Linked DNA regions of Homo sapiens: region 2 is linked to region 1. A link means that fine-mapping ties the variant in region 1 to the expression of a gene that starts in the linked region. Tissue or cell type: blood mononuclear cells. Region 1 holds a variant in brackets; the other region holds the start of a gene. All regions are shown on one strand. Distances are between the middles of the regions.

Evidence for each region. PIP is the estimated chance that this variant, and not a neighbour inherited with it, causes the effect.
Region 2: it holds the start of WDSUB1, and the variant in region 1 is fine-mapped to the expression of WDSUB1 in blood mononuclear cells (TOPMed, PIP above 0.99).

What each region holds. Positions count from the first base shown.
Region 1 is chr2:159,261,531-159,269,870 of GRCh38, reverse strand. The region is part of intron 5 of WDSUB1 (WD repeat, sterile alpha motif and U-box domain containing 1); the gene reads left to right. Among named protein-coding and RNA genes, the nearest start is that of WDSUB1, 21 kb to the left of the region's middle. The variant C/G (reference allele first, on the strand shown) is at 3,431.
Region 2 is chr2:159,283,591-159,291,930 of GRCh38, reverse strand. It overlaps WDSUB1 (WD repeat, sterile alpha motif and U-box domain containing 1), which reads left to right and starts at 5,228. Exons shown (of 11, transcript NM_001128212.3): 1 at 5,228-5,348. RefSeq lists silencers at 5,099-5,268, 4,955-5,394.

The DNA of each region.
Region 1 (8,340 bases):
TCTTCTATTCCTTTTAGTTTGTAAGAGTTTTGTTGTTATTTTTTTAATCATGCAAGGGTATTGTATTTCATCAGATGATTTTTCCTACATCTTTGAGATGATACAATTTTTCTCTGTTACTCTGTTAGTGGAGTGAATTACAAGATTTTTAAATGTTAAACCAACCTTGCTTTGTTGGAACAAACAAATTTTAGGGTATATTATTGTTGTGTATTGCTATAGAAAAGTTAGTTTCATTCTAACTGTTGTTCCTTTGGATGTAATTCATGTGTTTTTCTCTGGCTGCTCATGAAATTTTCTGTTTTGAGGTTTTTGCATATCCACTTTGTATCTACATATGAGTTTCCTATTTAGTTTGCTTGGAATTCATTGAACTTCTTAAATCCTTGGAATGATATTGGGCAGGGCGTGGTGGTTCATGCCTGTAATCCCAGCACTTTGGGAGGCAGAGGCAGGCCTATCACTTGAGCTCAGGAGTTCAAGACCAGCCTGGCTAACATGGTGAAACCTCATCTCTACTAAAAATACAAAAATTAGCCAGGCATGATGGTGGGCACCTGTAATTCCAGCTACTCAGGAGGCTGAGGCAGGAGAGTTGCTTGAACCCAAGAGGTGGAGGTTGCAGTGAGCTGAGATCACACCACTGCACTCCAGCCTGGGTGACAGAGCAAGACTCCATCTCAAAAAAAAAAAAAAAAAAAAAAATCTGTGGAAAGATATTTTACCACTTTTGGAAAATTCTTATTTATTATCTCTTCAAGTATTGCCTCTGTTCCTTTCTTTCTGTCCTCTAATTCTGGGATTCCAATTAAAGGCACATTACACCTCACTGTAAACTTTATTCTCTCTTTTGTATTTATGCTTCTGTTTTGTTTGTTTGTTTGTTTTTTCCTGTTTCCTATGCTTCATTCTGGATGGTTTTCCCTTTCCTTTCTTCAGCTAATATATTAAACTGGTCCATTGAATTCTTAATTTTGCTTATTTTATTTTTTGGTCCTAGAATTCCTATTTGGCAATTTTTTTCAGTGGTGTCACTTTTTATGATTTCCAGTTCTGTGTTGAAGTTGTCAACCTTGGCTTTTATTTTTCAAAGCTTTATTCTGTTAGGCAATGGGCTGGAACATCGTTTCATGATTCAATTACTTTATACTCTTTTCCTTTTGAATACTTTTGTATATTTTCTCCTTGCCATTAGATTTTCTAAAACTTTCCTGTCTGATCTCACAGGTCATAGCATTCTGACCCACATTTATGGCTCTTCATAGCAACTTTCATTCCAGCTAAGATATTTAGGCTCCTAACCTCCATTTAGAATGTCTGGACTAAGGCTGATGGTTCTTTTTTTCCATATGCTCCAATTCTTGCCAAACAGCCAAATTACTAGTTATGTTGTTGTCATTATTGTAGATGTGGCTGTTTGATCTCTAAAGATGAAGATTATTCATCATCAAAAAGTATTTATAGTAATTGTCTTTTGACCTAGAATTTAAATCATTGGAAAGTTTAAACAAATAAAGTTGAACTCTGTCTGCTGTGTTAGGGGACAGGTTAGCTGACAGAATGATTATGTGCCCAGCTCTCTGCCAGTTGGAATAGGGCATAGAAAAGGAAGTATAAGACAGTGTTTGTGCTCTTGAAGACATTTTAAATCCCCTCTTTTCTATTTAGTAGTTGATGTTCATAGTGATGAACTAATAACACTGCAAGACCCTGACATGTACTTATCCTCTGAGTCATGGAGGAAGTGTTAAGTGATACTCAATATTGTGTTAAGTTCATTTTATAGCGGTATAATTCTTTGCCAGTTTGTATATATGTGTGTCTTAGTTAACATTGTATTTATGGAAATGTGTCTTTCCCAATCATTCTGGATAAATGGAAGTTTACATTATCAAGTGCTTTTGGGTATATGGTGTTGCTCAAGGTCACATTCAAATATTTTTCTGAATATTTCTAGTTTATTTGGACAAATATACAGGCAAATGAATGAGAAATGTAAATTAATAAACTTAATAAACATTTAGTTTTTAGAAGAATTGACAGGCATATTTAAATCATACTTAGTAGATAAAAATAGGTCAATTAGTTAATGATAGATTCTATTTGTGACTAAAAGTCAATGATAAGATAGAATGAATACGTATGGGAAAGAGGGAGACTAAAAAAAGTGAGTAGGATAAAACGAGGCTGTATATGAATATAAGTGGCTAGAGATGAAAAGTGAATGGACAGCAGAATGTGGTTGTAGGTCAGTATTGTGTACTAAGGGCTGGGTGTGGAGCTCATGCCTGTTATTCCAACACTTTGAGAGGTCAAAGCAGAAGGATCACTTGAGGCCAGGAGTTTGAGACCAGCCTGGACAACACAGTGAGACCCAGTCCCTACAAAAAAAAATTAAAGAAATTAGCTGGGCATAGGGGTGTGTGCCTGTAGTCTCAGCTACTTGGGAGGCTGAGGCAGGAGAATCCCCTGAGCCCAGGAGTTTGAGGCTGCAGCAACCTATGATCATGCCACTGCACTCCAGCCTGGGCAACAAAGTCAGAACTTGTCTCTTTAAAAAAAAAAAAAGAAAGAAAAAAGAGGTGTACTAATGAAGGTGTGTATGGCATAGATAGGGGTGGCCTTGGAAAAGGCAGTATAGAATTTCTATGCAGATATGGGAAGATTGAGGAACAGAAAGAGCATTCCAGGAGGCAGGAAATTCTTGAGTAGATCAAAATGTATAATAAACATTCAAATAAATAAGGAGAAATGAGGCCAGAAAAACAGATTGTAGAGATAACAGAGAACCTAGGATGGACCGGGCATGGTGGCTCATGCCTGTAATCCCACCACTTTGGGAGGCTGAGGCAGGAGGATCACTTGCGCCCAGGAGTTTGAGACCAGCCTGGGCAACATAGGAAGACCTGGTCTCTACAAATAATAAAAAGTTACCCAAGCATGGTGGCTTGCACCTGTGGTCCTAGCTCCTCAGGAGGCTGAGGTGGGAGGATCGCTTGAGCCTAGGCAGTGGAGGCTGCAGTGAGCCACAATCGTGCCACTAAACTCCAGCCTAGGCAACAGAGTGAAACCCTGACTCAAAACAAAAAACAACAAAAAAACCCCTGAGAACCTAGGATGGTGTTAGAACTTGTTCAAACCTTATATATTAAATTTAGGAGAACTTCTGAAACTTCTAAAGCAATTCTAACATGCAAAGCCTAGCTATAGGAGACTAGTGTCTAGAGATGAATATAAGTGGCTAGAGATGAAAAGTGAATGGACAACAGAATGCGGTTATAGGTCAGAATAGAGAAGTGAAGAATTGAATCATGATTTAGGTCAGTGGTTCTTATACTTTTTGGTCTTAAGATTCCTTCACATTCTTAAAAGTAAGATTCCTTGGCCAGGCGCGGTGGCTCACGCCTGTAATCCCAGCACTTTGGGAGGC[C/G]GAGGCGGGCGGATCATGAGGTCAGGAGATCAAGACCATCCTGGCTAACATGGTGAAACCCCATCTGTACTAAAAATACAAAAAATTAGCCGGGCGTTGTGGCGGGTGCCTGTAGTCCCAGCTACTCGGGAGGCTGAGGCAGGAGAGTGGCGTGAACCCGGGAGGCGGTGCTTGCGGTGAGTCCAGATCGTGCCACCACACTCCAGCCTGGGCGACAGAGCAAGACTCTGTCTCAAAAAAAAAGTAAGGTTCCTTGACACTCTTAAAAGTTATTACCCTAAAGAGCTTTTGCTTATATGGGTTACATCTATCACTATTTATAATACTAGAAAATACAATCGAGAATATTCTGAAATATTTTAAATTCATTTAAAAGCAATAGATTATTGCATATTAGCTTTTTGAGGAAAAAATAAATAGTGAAAAGAGTGGCATTGTTCTACATTTTTGAAGATCTTTTTAATGTCTGGCATAGCAGAAGACAGCTGGATTTTCACATCTGCTTCACATATTCCACCAGCCCTCAGAGCTGTGATGGCGTTACAGGTCCTGTAGCAAAATACGCAAGAGGTTTTTCCCTTGGTCTTTCTCCACTTCTGTCCCCTAATAACTTTGCTCCAGCCCCTTAGCAGAATTTGTCTTTTGTTCCACCCTACTTCTCTTGATCTAGCCAGATACAACAAACATTATATATATCAGCCGCTGTTAAAACAGGAAGAGTCAGTCTTTTTTTTGGGACAGGGTCTCCTCTGTCACCCAGGCTGGAGTGTGATGGCACTATCATGGCTTACTGCAGCCCTGACCTCCTGGCCTCAAGTGATCCTCCCACCTCAGTCTCCTGAGTAGCTGGGACTACACTTGCAGGCCACCATGCTTGGCTAAGTTTTGTATTTTTTGTAGAGTCAGGGATCTCATTCCTGGGCTCAAGTGATCCTCCCACCTTGGCCTCCCAAAGTGTTGGGATTACAGGCATGAGTCACCACACCTAGCCGGGTCAGTCTTTGTAATTCAAATAAAGTCTGCCTGTTTCCAGAAGGTCTCAGAGTTTAGGATTCCTTGGAAATGAGTTTTTAAAATGCCCACAGTTGTGTGTGAGAGACAGGAAGAAAAGAGAGAGAGTGAGTGTGTGTGTGTGTGTGTGTGTGTGGTGTGTGTGCTTGCTTTAGAGATAAGGCCTCACTCCATTACCCAGGCTGGAGTGGCTCACTGGAGCCTTGACTTCCTGGGCTCAAACAGTCATCCCACTTCAGCCTCTCAAGTAGCTGGAACTATAGGTGTGTGCAACCAGGCCCAGCCAGTTAGGAGTTGTTTTTTTTTGTTGTTGTTGTTGTTGTTGTTTTATTTTTTTTTTTTTTTGAGATGGAGTTTCGCTCTTGTTACCCAGTCTGGACTGCAATGGCGCGATCTCAGCTCACTGCAACCTCTGCCTTCCAGGTTCAAGTGCTTCTCCTGCGTCAGCCTCCCAAGTAGCTGGGATTACAGGTGCCCGCGACCATGCCTGGCTAATTTTTGTATTTTTAGTAGAGACAGGGTTTCACCATGTTGGCCAGGCTGGTCTCGAACTCCTGACCTCAGGTGATCCGCCTACCTCAGCCTCCCAAAGTGCTGTGATTAGAAATGTGAACCACTGCGCCTGGCCCTTTTCCTTTTCTTGAGTTGAAAACCAATGAGAGGGCAATACGGGACTGGGTAACATGACTTTTGATCGGCAACCCACTTGCCCACCTGCTCTTGGGCAGCATGGACCACTGCAGTCTTCCCCTGCCAGTGCAGATCAGAAAAAAGAGAAAATCCAGAAGGGGCTCAGCTCCATGGCCCAGCGCTTGCCCCACACTCTCCAGTTATTTGTCATTTATTTTCCGCTAGGCATGAGAGGGAGGAAAGAGGCCAAGAATCTTACCCCAGAAGGGGTGGGAAATAGGTTTCTCCTCTCCCCAACAAGACAGTTGTTTATATTTTATCTATTTTGTAAGTAAATGATAGAGTTTATTGTCACGAGTTAGGAGTGCTTTCATGAACAGCCCCCTCTTGCTCAGCAATGACTAGCTGAAGAAGGCTTAACGTTATCTTTCCCAAAATGCAAATCATGTTTTTTCTCTACAATATTGCTAACAGTCCTGTTGAACAAGTAAGTTCATTTAGTAACTGAAAAGGACACGTTGCCATCTGTGTATCACGGAGGGTTATCAGATGCTAGATTGCTTGAAAGTAGATGTCTTCTGAGAGCTTTAGTGAAATTTGAATAGCCACACCATCACTTTTCAAGTTTTTAGGCTGAAATCATCAGAGTATGTGCCTGTGTTGAATCAATTTTGATACATTGGGGGAAGATATTTTAGCAAGCATAATATTAAAAAACATGGGTTTTAGAATTACACAGAACTGGGTTTTAACCCCAGCCTTGCCACTTAACTAGCTGCAGGACCTTGAACAAGTTCTGGTTCCGTGTCTTCTCCCAGCTTCATGTTCTGACTATAAAATGGAGAATGTAATAGCACTTTCCTCATAACATTGTTATGAAGATTAAGAAAATGCAGATAAAGCATTTATTATGTTTGGGACATCACTGCTCAATACATATATATTAAATAGTACATAAAATAATAGATATAATTTATGTAATCCAGAACACCAATTATATAACGTATTTTACCCCATTTTTCTGAATTGAGCTATTAGCCATTAGCTTACAGTAAGCAGCATTACAGAACAGCTCTTTGAAACTTATTTTCATTCAGGAAGAGTTGTTGAGGACTCGGTTTATGTTTCATAGCATCCTCCTCTAAAGGCCTTGGGGAAAGTGGTCCTGTCAGGTCTCAGTCTGAGGGCTTCATGTCCTTTTTCCCCAAGCATTGGGTTTGTGTTTCTATTTTACATTGCATAACTGGTCATATTTCCTTTTTGCATTGCTACTGAAGAAGCTCAGAATCAAACTTGCAACCTTTCTTTGGCAAAGTGGACAGGACCTATGACACGTGTTTTTGATATTAATCTATATTAATCTTCACCTTCATTCTCTCCCCTCACCTCATTCTTACGTTCTCTTCCCCTTCAGGTTCTTCACATAACTTTTGTTTTTGCTCTATCTTTGTAAGAGACTGCAAATCCTTTCTAAATGAGAAGAAACATAAATACATTTAAAATTAAAATACTGAAGTGTAAAATCTTTAAATGTTAGCAACATACTTGGGCTCAGGAAATAATTGCTAGTGATTGTATTTGATTAGTTTTTTGGCCATTGTACAAAGTTAGTTTTGAGATGGGTCACTGCGATGTCACGGATCTCGAGGAGTCTGTGATTACACCACGTCCATGTCAAGCACATAGCTATGTGTTGTTGATGTTGTCCAGTAGCTGTCTAGATATAATTGACGGGTTTCTCTTGTATTCTTGAGTGAGCAGAGCTGAGGTTTTAGAGCACCACAAAACTGTAGGAATGGAGTATCAAAAGGTTGAATACCTGCCTCATGAGGAAACTGGGGGAAAGATGACAGGGCAGATTGTGGCAGAATGTATGTACTGAAAATTTGGGGGAGGAACTATAGCAGGAAGAAAATACATAACCAGGGACACCAAACAGTTGGATTTTTTGTTTAGTGGTTGTTGATTTGGCTTCAATTTAGGGAATATTTTGAGGGTTTTTATTGCTTCAGTAGTTTCAAACTATTTTGTGTCTATGTAAGTTGGCTTTTATTCTCCTGATCTCTCAAACTCAAATCTCAAAATATTGAAAACTTCTGTTATTTTTCCCTAACCCTAATTTACCTTCCTCAAAATCTAATGAATTATCAAATCCTATTGCATCTTCCTTGGAATCATCATTAGTTAAACTAAAGGCAATAGGAAGTGAGTTTAAAATCCTTTCTTCCAGAGCCTGCAGGTCTGTTCATGTGTTTATAATTTTCGTTTTTTGTTTTTTTTTCCATGGATTCAGTGGTCTCCTACTGGTTTATTCATGTTTGGCCTTGCGCTTCTCAAATTCCTTTTTATACCTCATCAGCAAGTGAACTTATTCCACTGCCCTCATGGCTAGCTGTGGCCTGTGAAATCGTCCAGATTCCTTGGGCAGACACTCAGGGTGCTTTGTATTTTTGTTCGGGGCTGTGTTTTCAGCCTTACTGCTTGCCGTTCCCATATGTGGACTCTTGCCTGTCGCACTGATTTCTGTCTTCCCAATCCAATGCTCATAGAGATCACTAAGGATAATCCTGCTTATTAAGTGATGAGTTGGTTTGAATTGTCTCTGGTGGTAGTCTAGGAAAGTGGGATTTCTTTTTAATTTTGGGGTTTTGTTTTTGATTTGTGGTACCAATGAGGATTTTATTTGAGACAGTGTAATGGGGGCCAGATGAGAGAACCATTTTCTTTGTAAGCTTAGCATGGCTGGGCTCTAGCCAGCTCCAGATGAAATTTTGGCTAATTATCCCTTTAGAAAAGTCAGGCTTAAGCAGAACTGGGCTCTAGGTCAATTAACCAAAAGCCAGTTCACCCAATGACCAGTTCATTTATTTAAAAAAAAAAAAAAAAAAAAAAAAAAAAAAAAATATATATATATATATATATATATATATATATATATATATATATATATATGAGTTTCAGTTGACCAGTTTTCCTTTCATCTCATCATATAATCTTGAAAAGTAATATTTAACATGCTCCTGACCCCCAGCCATGTAGCTATAGCTGGAGACCTGGTTTTCTTAGCTGTTATGAAAGTATTTTTGTGTGTGTGTGGATACTTTTTCAAATTGATGTCCCTGTGAGGGGACAAGCATGGGAAGTTATACTCTGCCATCTTGCTGACATCACTCTTTAGTTGTGTGTGTGTTTTAAGGATGCTCAAAATAGCAGAATTTGGCCTAAGAATTTCAGATATTTCACAAATAAGAACTTGTACCTTGAAGAAC
Region 2 (8,340 bases), 22 kb before region 1:
TAGTGAAAATATGGAGAAATATTAATTCCAGATAATCAGGTTAAAATGGAGACCTAGCATTATTTGGCCAATTAATTGACAGAATGTTACAAGATGCCAAAGACTGGTAGCATCAAATACTGTATTCCAGACTATAATAGGCAGTAAACTGGAAACATAATCTGTAATTCTGTAAATTGAATTATTGTTGAATGAATTAATTTTTCCGTATCTGTAATATTTTTACCTTATGTAATAAAAACCATAAATCTGGAAACAAAAGTATTTTTTTCAGAAATGCATTAACATCTTGAATTCTCTTGAAGAACATTAATAATAGTATCTGAAAATAAAGAATTTGAGAAAATGAGACAATAAGAAAATGAAAAAATGTAAACTGCAATTTAAAATTTCATAAACAAAAGCTGGGCACGGAGTGGCTCATGCCTGTAATCCCAGCACTTTGGTGGGGGGGCCAAGGGGGGAGGATTGCTTGGGCCCAGGAGTTGAGACCAGCCTCAGCAACATAGTGAGACCCTGTCTCTATACAAATAAAAATCAAAAAATGAGCTGGGGTTTGTGTTGCACGCCTGTAGTCTCAGCTACTCAGGAGGCTGAAGTGGGAGGATCGCTTGAGCCCAGGAATTGGAAAACAAAACAAAAACAAAACCAACAAAACAAAATAAAAATTTCATAAGCAAAAAATATTTCTTGTACCATAAAGGCAGAAAAAGGCACAGTGAGAATTGCAAAAAAATTTTTTAGTGTGTACCAAATACCAAGTTTCATACATGTCATTACATTTCTTTCTGGTATTCTTACTTCCAGCCATATGCATATTTTCTGCTGTCAGGCAGTTCTCACTGTGCCCAATATACACCATCTCATCCCAACCCTCTGTTTTGTTGTTAGGCAGCCCCTGGATCTTTCTTTTTTCCTGTATGGAATTCCAGTTGTTTCTAAAGAACTCTGCTAATTCTTACTACTGGGTTGGCACACAGGGACTCTGAATGGTTTAATGAAAAGATGGCCAGTTCGAAGGTGTAAATTTTACATAGTGGCAAAGGATAAAGCAAATTAAGAGAACATTTTATGATGCAGAAGTTATCTTGCTCCCAGGCAGAGTTGCAGCTTTCCAGCTCCCCAGAGTTCTCTACAAGGAGGTGGCACTGTGGCTCATACCAGATGTGGAGAGTTGATGGTTGCATCAGATATGAGATAATCTCTGGGCAATCTGCCAGGATGTTTTTAAAAACGTCTTCTGCAGTGTAATATACACATAGAAAAAGGCAAATTTCATGCGTTCAGCTTGATATAATTTCATAAACTGAACACCTCAAGGGAGTTTTTATACCTTGAGCTCTACCTTGTCCAACTGTTCTGGAAACTCTGACATTGGGTTTGCCTGCAAAGGAAAACAACCTCAATACATGCCTGAGTATTTCCTGTGAAACTGGGTGTTTCCAAAGCTCACCCCTCAGCCGGCCTAGACTTCAGGTCTAGTTAGCACACATTCTTATGCCCACCTTTTCCAACTTCACAGGCGCCTCTCATCTCTCCGTTAAGCTCTTGTTTACTCAGGACCACATATTTTAGTAATTGGTGGCTCACTCATTGCTTCACATCTATTCGGTTCCCGTTGCCACTGTATTTTGACAACATGTATTGCTTACTATTTAATTGAAAAGTTGGGGAGGGATAGCATTAGGAGATATACCTAATGCTAAATGACGAGTTAATGGGTGCAGCACACCAACATGGCACATGTATACATATGTAACAAGCCTGCACGTTGTGCACATGTACCCTAAAACTTAAAGTATAATAATAATAAAATTAAAAAAAAAAAAAAGAAAAGTTGGTTTTTCTGGTTGGCCGCGGTGGCTCACCCCTGTAATCCCAGCACTTTGGGAGGCAGAGGCGGGCAGATCATGAGGTCAGGAATTCGAGACCATCCTGGCTAACATGGTGAAACCCCATCTCTATCAAAAATAAAAAAATTAGCCGGGCATGGTGGCTGGCACCTGCAGTCCCAGCTACTCGGGAGGCTGAGACAGGGCAATGGCGTGAACCCAGGGGTGGAGCTTGCAGTGAGCCGAGATCGCACCACTGCACTCCAGCCTGGGCGACAGAGCTTGCTCCGTCTCAAAAAAAAAAGAAAAGAAAAGGTGGTTTTTCTTTAAATACATCACTTAAAATTGTTTTCTATATTCTTCAAGTAGCATTATTTTAAGGAGCAGAACAAGAAATTAATGACAAAATGGGATTTTTATCCTTAAATAAGATTTTCTTTTTTTTGAAGACACAGTCTCACTCTGTTGCCAAGGTTGGAGTGCAGTGGCTCGATCTCGGCTCACTGCAACCTCTGCCTCCCGGGTTCAAGAAATTCTCCTGCCTCAGCCTCCTCAGTAGTGGGTATTATAGGTGTGCACCACCACGCCTGGCTAATTTTTGTATTTTTAGTAGAGACGGGGTTTCACCACGTTGGCCAGGCTGGTCTTGAACTCCTGACCTCAAATGATCTGCCCACCTTGGCCTCCCAAAGTGCTGTGATTACAGGTGTGAGCCACCGCACCCAGCCTTAAATAAGATTTTCACAGCTACACAATTAGGGTGAGGAATGCATAAAACATTCAAATCTTTAATATTCCAAATCAAAGGTCTAACTACTTTGGGAGATGTTAACTAAAATATCTTGCCAATATACTATAGAAACAGAATTTATAAAGATACATTTATAAGAATTTATAGATTTGTAGAGTGAACTGGTACAGGACAGAGTGTTAAAGTAGTTAGATCTCTGGAGACCAGCCTCAATGAGGCTTCTATCTTTGAAACTGCCTGTCTCTGTAGGACAGGCAAAGCTGACTATACTGGACATGAGGTCATGGTGCTAAACTACTGGCAGGTGTAGTCACGGGCTTCTTTTATATATTTTACTTAAAGAATATTATAACCAATTTGGCTTATCAAATTAGTGTAGATAGAGGCTGAGGCGGGTGGATAACTTGAGGTCAGGAGTTCGAGACCAGCCTGGCCAACATGGTGAAACCCTGTTTCTACTAAAAATACATAAAGTCAGCCGGGCGCGGTGGCGGGCGCCTGTAATCCCAGCTACTTGGGAGTCTGAGGCACGAGAATCACTTGAACCTGGGAGGTAGAGGTTGCAATGAGCCAAGATCCTGCCACTGCATTCCAGCCTGGGCGACAGAGCAAGACTCCATCTCACAAACAAACAAAAAAACCCACACACAAATTAGTGTAGATAAAAAAGGTATCCCTCAAGTTTGACAAGAAAGTGGAGAGACAAACACAACTACATATTGCTGAGAGTGTAAACTGTACAACCTCTCTGAAGAGCAGTATGGTAATACTTATTAAAACTGTCTACACCTTTATGCCCAGTGATTCCATTTCCTTTTTTTTCTTTTGTGAGACAAAGTCTCACTCTATCCCCCAGACTGGAAGTGGAATGGGGAGATCTCTGCCCACTGCAACCTCAGCCTCCTGGGTTCAAGAGATTCTCCTGTCTCAGCCTCCTGAGTAGCTGGGATTACAGGTGCGTGCCACCATGCCTGGCTAATTTTTTTCTATTTTTAGTAGAGATGGGGTTTCACCACGTTGGCCAGGCTGGTCTTGAACTCCTGACCTCAGGTGATCCACCCAGCTTGGCCTCCCAAAGTGCTGGGATTACAGGCGTGAGCCACCGCACCTGGCCTCCATTTCAATTTTTATCCTAAGTACATATTCATAAATATGGAAAAAGATTTATGTACATAACGTGGTAATATATTGAGGCTAAAAGAAAAAGATTTAGGTACAAAGATATTTAATCCAGCATTATCTACACTAAGATCAAAATTGTTGAAACCATCCAGCAACAGGGAAAATGTTAAATAATTTATGGTATGTTTATATGTAGACCATTATGTAGAAAAAAAAGCTAATGAAATTTTAGACATGGGAACAGCTCATGACACAAGTTTGTTTAAAAAGGCAGTTTCCAGGACTTTTTGTAAAATTAGTTTTTCTGAAAGACTGAGAGAAAATGTTATCTCTGAGTGGGTGATCTCTGAGGGGTGTAATTATTGACTATTTATTTTCCTGTTATATATTCTGTGTTTCCTACAGAGAGCTCTATTATTTATACAATCAAAAACTTGTTTTTAGAAAAATACTGTTTTGGCAATACTTTGGAATGGAATTTGGTGTTCAAAGTCTCAATCATGATGCACTCCGCTAATTTTAAAAAATTAACAAGAACTTCACAAAATCCTAATTTTTAATCTTCCCTTTCCCCTTAATCTTTTTCATTGCAAATAGTTTCCCACGGTCTCAATTTCATCTTTAAATGTGAGCATTTTAGGTCATTACTCTTCAAATGTAACTTCGGTCTCCACAGGCTGATATATTTTTAATGTTTCCTCATGGATTAAAAATAAAAGCTCTCTGTATCTTTGATTTTCATCTGAACATAGTCCCACACTATGTTGTGCATTTAGTTAACAAGTGGTAATTTGCTCAGGAACTTTTTTTTTTCTGGATAATTTTTATCTCAAAAAGCACTGGCAGGGCCACTTTGTAGTCAATGACACGTGGAAACCAGTCTACCGTGAGCCAGTGGGACGCACTGGGAAAGGCTGAAGAAAAGGCGCCCGGGGTTCCAGTGAGCTCAGGATACCCACCCAACGGCAGGGCTGGGGCCCGGGGCAGGCAGCCTGCCCGGGAGAGACCCCTAGGGGAACCCGAATGAGGAGGCGAGGGCAGAAGACGCCAAGTCACGGACCGCCCAGGGTGGCCGAAATAGAGAAGGCCAATCTGGGAGACCGGCCTCGGAGTACACAGTGCAGGGTGGAGAACTGGAGAAAGAGGTAAAAACTTTCAGCAGGGATGGCCGAACATTCCATGCAACGCCCCTTTAAAACGACGTTTCAGGCGATCACTAGGCCTTGCGACCGCAGCTTTAGCAAAAACAGAAAGATTTGCGACGGAAGTCCCTTTCCAAGCCTGAAATCGCCTTGACCCTAGGAGCCAGAAGCTGGGGAGGAACTCGCAGTCCGGGCGGAAGAGCGCGCATGCGCCGCCTCAGGGGCCGGTCCCGGGGGCGGGGCCTGTTCCCTCCGCCCTGGGTCTCCACAGGCTTTCGCGGGGCGGGGCCTACTCCCTCCGCTCTGGGTCACAGCGGGCGTTCGGGGGGCGGGGCCTGTTCCCTCCGCTCTGGGTCCCCGCGGGCGTTCGGGGGCGGGGCCTGTTCCCTCTGCTCTGGGTCTCCGCCGGCGCCCGCCCCGCCAGCCTCACCTGCGCGGCACGTGACCCGCACCGCCCGTGGGCACCTTGAAGGCGGATCCCGCGCGCCCCCGCTCCTGCAGGTGAGAGCGGCCGCGCCCACGGGCCGGCTCAGCGGCGGTGGCGGCAGGTGGGGAAGCGCGGCTGGGCCTGCTCGCGCGGGGCGTCTGAGCCCTCCATTTCCCGGTTCTAACCGCGCAGCAGGGCCCAACCGGGACCTTGAGTGCGGCGAGGCGTGGTTCGTGCACCCTTGGCCCGGGGCTAGGGCGGGCGTGTCGGCGTCGGGTGGAAGGAAGCCCCTTGCGGGTGAGCTCCCTGCCTCCCAGGCCTCCCTCTTGCCTGGGGTCGCTCAGTCCACAGAGGCCCGGCCGCTCATAGAGGGGGGCACATTCCTGGTCTTTCGTGCATGGGGGGTGTAAGTGGCGGACTTTATTTTGGGAGCGCTGGACACCTTTCGGGTTTGCTTTGAATGAGATGGGATTCATGTGTTTACGCTGGCCAACTGACCTGGTGTGCCCGGGAATTTACTGTTCGCGTGACAGCCGAGGCCCGAGGGAACGCCCACACCGCCCCCCCTACCCCAAGGCAGGTCCTGGGTAGGCCTGAGAGCTTTTTCAAAACAAACTGTTCAGCTGACGGTGGCCTCGGTACTTCCCACTGAATGCCCTGGAACTTGCAAAGGGAGCTGAGTGCGGCAGAGGGCTGGGAGCCGGAGTTTGTTTGGAAAATCACCTGTGCGCACTTGCACAGCTGGGATTTGCGAGCTCTCCAGAAAGCACCACCTGGTCTTGATTGTTTTCAAGACAGCAGTACAGGGATAGTCTACCAGAAATTTTCGTGTTTGGTTTTTAGGCTTTATTGGAGTTTATGTTCGAAGAAAAGAAGCTGAACTTATCCTAAAAGGATAAGATGAAGATAGGGAAAGGCATGCTCCTTATGCCTTAATATTTGTTTGATTGATTGATGGGGTCCTGCTCTGTTGCCCAGGCTAGAGTGCAGTGGTGCAATCACAGCTCACCGCCGGCGTCACCTCCGGGGCTCAAGTGATGCTCCCGCCTCAGCTTCTCGAGTAGCTGGGACTACAGGTGCTCGCCACCACACCCAGCTAATTATTTTTATTTTTAGAGAGATGGGGTCTTGCCTTGTTGCCCAGACTGGTCTTAAACTCTTGGGCTCAAGTGTTCCACCCATCTCGGCCTCCCAAAATGCTGGGACTACAGGTGTGCACCATCGCGCCCAGACTTTTTTTTTCTTTGGTAGAGGTGTTTCCGTAAATAAGACTAGGACAAAGGATTATCAATTTTACAAGTCAAGGTTATACCTGCCCCTTTCAGAGCTGATTCTGCCTCACTTGACACCAGTTTTCCACCGTCAGTTATGTTTCTGTGTGTGTATATATATTTAGTCTTGGTAGATTTTCTAATTTCATATTACATATGGATTATTTAAAGGCTGGAACTCAGTTGGGCTCGAACAAAATAAATATTCAACTTATATTTATTTAAGTACATTAGGTGCCTGACAGTTTTACATGGTGTGGATACAGAAATGAGCAAGATGGCAAAGTACCTACTCCTTTGGGATTTACATCCTAGTCGGAGGAGACAATTTAACAAATATCCGATGCTGGTGGTAATTGCTGAGAATATAGAGTGATGTGCTAGCCTAGGGAGTGGCTACTTTAAATAGGGAAACCGTCTCTGAGGAGAGACACTGAAATTGAGATCTAAATGACAAATAGGATCCCAAGAGCAGAGGCAAGAACATTTCAGCTTGAGAAAACCGCTTTATGGAGACGGAAGACTGTTAGGCCAAGGAGGCTGGAAAGAAGAGAGGGACAGTGGCCAGAGTTGAGATCTGAGAAGTGGGCAGGCGGGAATTATATAGGATTTTGATTACATAAGACTGTATAGGATTTTGTTTGCCATGATGAGTTTGATTTTATTCTAAATTTGTAAATTTGTTCTTGAGCGTGGTCTGGCTAAGTTCATTTTTTGACACTTTCTTAGGTTTTCTTTTCTTGGTTTCCTTGATTCATTCAGAGGTGGTTCCTCACCTCAAGTCTTTTGTATAATTTTACTATTTATCAGACAGGATGACAAACCATGATAGGACAGCTTTCAACATGGTCACTTATTAATAAATTTTCAATGAGACTTTTGTTGTTTTTTTTTAAGAGCAAATCCTACAGTTTGATTTTAAAGGCGGAGCAGATAGCCTTGGCTCCATCCTGTGAAGGGAACAGCTAAGATAGTTTATTAGAATAGAAAATACTTTTTGAGTTGAGATGAGCAGATCTGGAGTGAGGTATTTTTGAGAACTCCTTATGAGAAAGGCTTCAAAGGTGAAATAAACACCTTAGGTTTTGAAAGCTCAACATCAAATCAGTTTGAAGTTATTTGACAGTTTGAAGGTTCTTTTTGAGGAGTTGTGGAAATTTATTGGTATGACAACGGTGGTTGTGAGAATCAGAGGTTATAGTCTTATAGATTTTTTTTTCTCCAAATTGTTCTTATCCCAGGTAACAGGTTGTCCTTTAAAACAGAGCTCCCTTGGCCGGGTACGGTGGCTCACGCTGGTTATCCCAGCACTTTGGGAGGCTGAGGTGGGCGGATCACTTGAGGCCAGGAGTTCAAGACCTGGCCAACATGGGGAAACCCGGTCTCTACTAAAAATACAAAAAATTAGCCGGGCGTGGTGGGACATGCCTGTAATCCCAGCTACTTGGGAGGCTGAGGTGGGAGAATCACTTGAACCCGCGAGGCGGGAGTTGCAGTGACCTGAGAACATGCCACTGCACTCAAGCTTGGATGACAGAGGGAGATCCTGTCTCAACAAAACAAAACAAAAACAAAACATAGATCCCCAACCCCCAGGGCCGAGGACTGGTACCCATCATGGCCTGTTAGGAACTGGGCTGCACAGCAGGAGGTGAGGGCATGAGTGAGCTCCACCTCTTGTCAGATCAGCTGCAGTGTTAGATTTTTTTTCTTTTTTTTTTTTTGAAGGCGGAGCAGATAGCCTTGGCTCCATCCTGTGAAGGGAACAGCTAAGATAGTTTATTAGAATAGAAAA